2 separate regions of the Homo sapiens genome follow, and region 1 is linked to region 2. The links come from fine-mapping of genetic effects on gene expression. A gene starts in region 2. The other region holds a variant in brackets. All regions are shown on one strand. Distances are between the middles of the regions.

Region 1 (2,919 bases), 69 kb after region 2:
CTGAGTCCTACTGGGAATTATTCATCAAACAGTTTAGTTTACCTTGAAATTATTCTCTTGTGTTTTTCTTTGTTCAGGTGTTATAATTTAACTTTGACACTGAAATACAATTTAAAACATTATTTAACCTTAAAAATGGGGATGTAGAAGATGGGGAAAATAATCTTATTAATGACACTTTAAAAAAACATTTACAGTGACTCTTCGACCTCTGAATCAGAAGTTTCCTCAGTGAGCCCTTTGAAAAATAAACATCCAGATGAAGATGCTGTGGAAGCTGAGGGGCATGAGGTAAAAAGACTCAGGTTTGACAAAGAAGGTGAAGTCAGAGAAACAGCCAGTCAAACGACTTCCAGCGAAATTTCTTCAGTTATGGTAGGAGAAACAGAAGCATCATCTTCATCTCAGGATAAAGACAAAGATAGCCGTTGTACCCGGCAGCACTGTACAGAAGAGGATGAAGAAGAGGATGAAGAGGAAGAAGAAGGTATTTAGAGACCATCTGTAAAAGGGTGGAGTAAGGAGATCCTCAAATTCTTGTACTTCATTTTTTTCGTGAAAGAATTTTACGTAATGGAACTCCTTATAATGCTGATGTTGGGCTTTTCTCCCACCTGTATGTAGTTGCTGCTGAATTTCAGGGGATGTGATTTGAACTATAGAATATCAGAATTCATGAAACTTAACTGTGGAGGTATTTTGAAAATACAATTTAACTACAACAACATTTGCTTATTTTTAGAGTCTTTTATGACATCAAGAGAAATGATCCCAGAAAGAAAAAATCAAGAAAAAGAATCTGATGATGCCTTAACTGTGAATGAAGAGACTTCTGAGGAAAATAATCAAATGGAGGAATCTGATGTGTCTCAAGCTGAGAAAGATTTGCTACATTCTGAAGGTAGTGAAAACGAAGGCCCTGTAAGTAGTAGTTCTTCTGACTGCCGTGAAACAGAAGAATTAGTAGGATCCAATTCCAGTAAAACTGGAGAGATTCTTTCAGAATCATCCATGGAAAATGATGACGAAGCCACAGAAGTCACCGATGAACCAATGGAACAAGACTAACTATTTAGAAACATTTAGATGCAGTATTTTACATACAGTTCTGGTTTTAACACTGTATAAAACTTTTGTGTAATAAAATGGACCTTTAGTTTTACAAGAGAAGCAGGTTGTAAAATAAAGTACTTTATGGATAATTCCTGAAAGAGTTGTACATGTAAGAACTGTGAATATCAGCTCCTCTGGGTCCTGCTTACCTTACCGCTGACTTTTCTTTCTTTCTTTTTTTGGTCTGGGCAAATCAGTGGTTTGTGTATAG[A/AT]TTTTTTTTTTTTTTTAATTTAGGATTGAAGTTTTTAAACTGGAAAGTAATTACAATTTTGAAAAGTTTTTTGAGATTATCACATTTAGTTTATACATATGCAAGAAGCTTTTTGTCTTGTCTCTTTCTGATAGCTCTAGCAGTTTTCATATTTTGGTCATAGTTTCAACATTTTAACATGTGAATTATAGGGTTTCATGCTGGTTTCCAGATTTTATTGTTTGGCTACGTACAATGGAACTTTAAGTCATATATACATACATATATATATATATATATATATAATTCTAAGGGGGGAAATGTTATATTTTTCTGTTTCTATAAGAGATGAATACAGTGGATACTTTTTCTATTGGTAATGATTGAGTTCACCTCTTTCAGAAGACATTTTCTTTCTCTTCTGAGTAATTGAAATAAAATCTGGCCCTTGTGAAACCCTGGAAATCTTAAGTCTGTTGAAATACCAGGTTAAACACATTCCAAGAGATCTGTTCAAACTCAAATTCTTTTGTATACTTCTGAGGTGCCTGAGAAAAAGACTTCATTATTTATGAGAAAATATGCTTTATCTTGGAAATTGTGTTCAAATGTTAGCTTACTATTTTGTAGAATGAATGTTTATGAAGCTGATATGAGACCATCTCAGAAGAACCAAGTAGGTTCCTTGACCTTTTGCTTGCTTTTCTGAACATTGTGAATATTACACATGTCTTTCTAAATTATTCTAGGGTATGCAAATGTCAATGGTATGAAACACCACTGTACTGGAAGAATTAATATATTACTTTAGTATGTACCTGAGCTAAATGACTGAAGCTTTAGGGGTGCATAGAAACCACCATAATTTGTATGACATTTTGAAGTGAATTAAATATTTTTGAACATGCTTCTTCGACAGCCAGTGTTATATTTTTCAGATCAACACAAAGCACAATGATTACTCGAAATTCAGTATTTTCAAATTTACATATTTAAAGTCATGCAAGCTGTAACTTCCCTGTCAAAATTACTGGCTGCCAAATTTATACCTGTTTCTTCAGCTGTACCTTTTGATATTTAAAGTTTTTAAATTTCTGTAAAGTAGATTTTGTAGAATGTAATGTGTTCACTGCCTTTGTGAAGCGGTATATAATTGTATAATTTCTGTGTGTAAACTGAATGCTTGGGCTTTCAATACAGTATTCATATAAAGCAATAAATATTAATGTTATGAAATATTTGACTACATTTTTATCAAAATATGAAAGAATCCCCCCTTTTTTAGTTTCAGATACCTGAACTACACAGATGAGCTTCTAAAACTGATGCAAACAGTTTCTGACACTGTATAATATGCTTTTGGGTGATTTGGGGGGCAACCACAAGTTTTGCGTTTTGACTACTTAAATCATCATGGCTATAAATACCAAAACGATTTGGATCCATTTATGTTTGTAGGATAATATACTACTGACTGACTTGACTGTCAGGTTCACAACAGCTAGATGATATATTTATGACTATGTCTAATAGTTGAAATAAAATCTGAATATTGATTTACTATACCCAAGAGGGGAGAAAAATTAACCATTGTAAATTTTTAAAAAATTTTTCAA
Region 2 (2,919 bases):
AAACCCAGCCACGTTGAGTGTTCCAGGTTTCACGCACTGTGCCAAATGTTTCACATTTGCCATTTCACTCAATCCTCGTGGCCGTTTTACAACCCTCATTTTATAAATAAGAACCCTGAAGCTGCCTGAGTTTAGGTAACTACTTCAGGGCCACACAAGGAGTAAGTAGTTGAGTTGGGATTTGAATATTGATTCCAAACCTTGAGCTCTTAATGACTTTGCTGTATACATTACTTCTTGCCACAGGTGGGCCAGTGACGAACGAACGTTGGGTTAAGCAGGGAGGTATTCTTGTTAGGATTATTAGCAATGCTTAGTGTATGTATGTATTGTTAATTTTATTATTATTTTTTTGAAACAGTCTCGCTTTGTCGCCTAGGCTGGAGGCAGTGGCGCGATATCGGCTCACTGCAACCTCCGCCTCCTGGATTCAAGCGATTCTCGTGCCTCAGCCTCCCGAGTAACTGGGATTACAGGCACGAGCGACCACGCCCGACTACATTTTGTATTTTTAGTAGAGACGGGGTTTCGCCATGTTGGCCAGGTTGGTCTTCAACTCCTGACTTCAGGTGCTCCGCCCGCCCCAGCCTCCCAAAGTGCTGGGATTACAGGCTTGAGTCACCGCGCCCGGCCTGTATTTATTTTTATATAGAGAAGGGCGAGGGAGCGGGGTCATTTTGTTACCCAGACTGGTCTCGAACTCCTGGGCTCAAGCGATCCTCTCGCCTCGGCCTCCCTCCCAAAGTGTTGGGATCACCGGCCTGAGCCCCCTGCCCGGCCTCGCTCTACGTTTTTTAGGCGCATTCTGAACGTGAAGTGTATACACTGAATTCTCACAGCAACTGCATAGGGCATCAGTACCAGTGCCCTTACTGTACAGATGGGGAAAATGAGGCTCAGACAGGCGAAGTAAGTAGCTTAAGTTCACACAGAGAGGAAATGGCAGGGATTCAAAGCCTAGGAGTCCGCCTGCAACCCTCTCGCCTGACCGTCCAGTCTTCAGCTCCGCGGAGCCTGGGCCTGGGGCTGGGGCTGGGGCTGAGGCTCTGGAAGCCGCCGGGACGCAGACGCCACTGGGCCCCAGCGTCACACCTCGGCCGCGCACGCGCTCTCGGGTTCCGGGCCGGAGCGCGCGGCGGGAGCGAGGACGGCGGCAGGGAGCGTGCGCGCGGTGACGTACCGGGCGCCATGTTGGAGGGTTGGTGGTAGCGGCTTGGGGAGGTGCTCGCTCTGTCGGTCTTGCTCTCTCGCACGCTTCCCCCGGCTCCCTTCGTTTCCCCCCCCCGGTCGCCTGCGTGCCGGAGTGTGTGCGAGGGAGGGGGAGGGCGTCGGGGGGGTGGGGGGAGGCGTTCCGGTCCCCAAGAGACCCGCGGAGGGAGGCGGAGGCTGTGAGGGACTCCGGGAAGCCATGGACGTCGAGAGGCTCCAGGAGGCGCTGAAAGGTGGGGGTAGCTGCCCCCTCTCCATTCCCCCTCACCTTCTCCGGCTCGCTCTTCTCTCCTTTCAGGGCGGATGGTTCCGAGGACCGGGGCCGGGCGCGGCGTGGGGAGAGTGCTTCCCGGGCTCCCATCCCCCTCCACCTCCCCAGGGGCGGGGAGCCCTGTGGGCAGCTCTCTCCCGCCCCGCTCTGGCTTTGTGTCGGCCGCCGGCGTCTGGGCTGGGGGAGGGGAGCCGGGGAAACTCTTGCGGGGGCCCCAGTCTTTCTCCCACCCGTTCAGGGGACGAGTGGCGGACCCGCAGACCCCTCCCTCCCAGATATCCTCTTTTCTCCACCAGGCTACCCGTACGCTAGGCGTTGGGGTGGGAGAAAAAGTAAACGGTTGGTGGGGGCGGGGGTAGGGGGTAGCATCGCAACTTTTAAGTTGTCTCAGTATGCCTTTTTCAGGGCTTTTGAAGTCATCTTTCCGCGCCCTAATTTCGAGGTGGTTGCCTTCACTGTTCTTGATTGCACGCCTTCCACGCAACAGGCTTGAGAACAGTGGCTTACAAACTTCGAGTAGAGAGATTTCAGCGTTTTGAGAATTATTCTTTGACATTCAGAATCATTTGGGGACGGCAACTTGGGGTAGTTGGTGCTTCTTAGAAAGGCAGATTTATGGACTTAGATGAACAATTGGTGGGAGTCGGGGCCTGGGGATTTTTATTTTCACTGGATTCCCAGCTTAATATAATGCTGGTGTTCCCCCGGACCACACTTCGAGAAGCACTGCGTTAAAAATGGTTTGTGAAGTTGAGTGCCCCCTTTAGGAGGATTCTTGTTATCTGTAAAGAGGGTGACATGTTGGAAGTAGAACTTGGAGGATTGAGGTGGTAATTTGGTTGAGAGGCCTTATTTTTTTAATTTTGTATTTAATTGATTTTTAATAAGGTAAAGGACTAGGAGGAAAGTTTGTTTTTAGAGCGCTTTTGAGAAAACTGATAACGTTTTTTTTTCTTCCTTCATCTAGATTTTGAGAAGAGGGGGAAAAAGGAAGTTTGTCCTGTCCTGGATCAGTTTCTTTGTCATGTAGCCAAGACTGGAGAAACAATGTGAGTTGAAAACATGCATTTGTCGTTATAGACCAGTGCATTATTAAGAATTGCTCAGGAAAGGGAAAAAAGTATATTTTGGGATAATTAAATAATTCATTCTAAATTGTAGAAGTCCTGGTCATTTAAATAATTTATATATTTACATTTAAAGAACGTATACGCTTACTTACTTTATACATGGTCTGTAACGGATTTTAAAAACCTGTGTATGTTAAAATTTTCTTTATAGCTAGGCTTTGGCACGCTTAGAGAATGTATTAGTCTTAACGAGCCAGAGAAAGGAAGAATGCCTATTCCATTATGACCCTTTTTGGCCATAACAAATAGGCTTATTCCTAGAATTTTGTGGCTTTGATTCTGTTTCAGAGTCTTGGTGGTATTTTCTCA

Direction of the effects. Positions count from the first base shown, and alleles are read on the strand shown. Sizes are in standard deviations (SD) of each study's normalised expression.
In carriers of allele A in region 1, the expression in monocytes after LPS of the gene that starts at base 1,182 in region 2 tends to be higher than with AT alone (moderate effect, 0.41 SD a copy in Quach 2016).

What was found.
Region 1: its variant is fine-mapped to the expression of PPP4R2 in monocytes after LPS (Quach 2016, PIP 0.91).

Annotation. Positions count from the first base shown.
Region 1 is chr3:73,064,655-73,067,573 of GRCh38, forward strand. PPP4R2 (protein phosphatase 4 regulatory subunit 2) reads left to right here. Exons shown (of 9, transcript NM_174907.4): 8 at 198-487; 9 at 743-2,919. The coding sequence ends at 1,068. Among named protein-coding and RNA genes, the nearest start is that of EBLN2, 4.5 kb to the left of the region's middle. The variant A/AT (reference allele first, on the strand shown) is at 1,325.
Region 2 is chr3:72,995,630-72,998,548 of GRCh38, forward strand. It overlaps PPP4R2 (protein phosphatase 4 regulatory subunit 2), which reads left to right and starts at 1,182. Exons shown (of 9, transcript NM_174907.4): 1 at 1,182-1,442; 2 at 2,448-2,529. The coding sequence starts at 1,409. LOC124909395 (a long non-coding RNA gene) reads right to left here and starts at 1,562. Exons shown (of 2, transcript XR_007095961.1): 1 at 1,478-1,562. RefSeq lists enhancers at 807-856, 2,117-2,166 and a silencer at 1,037-1,666.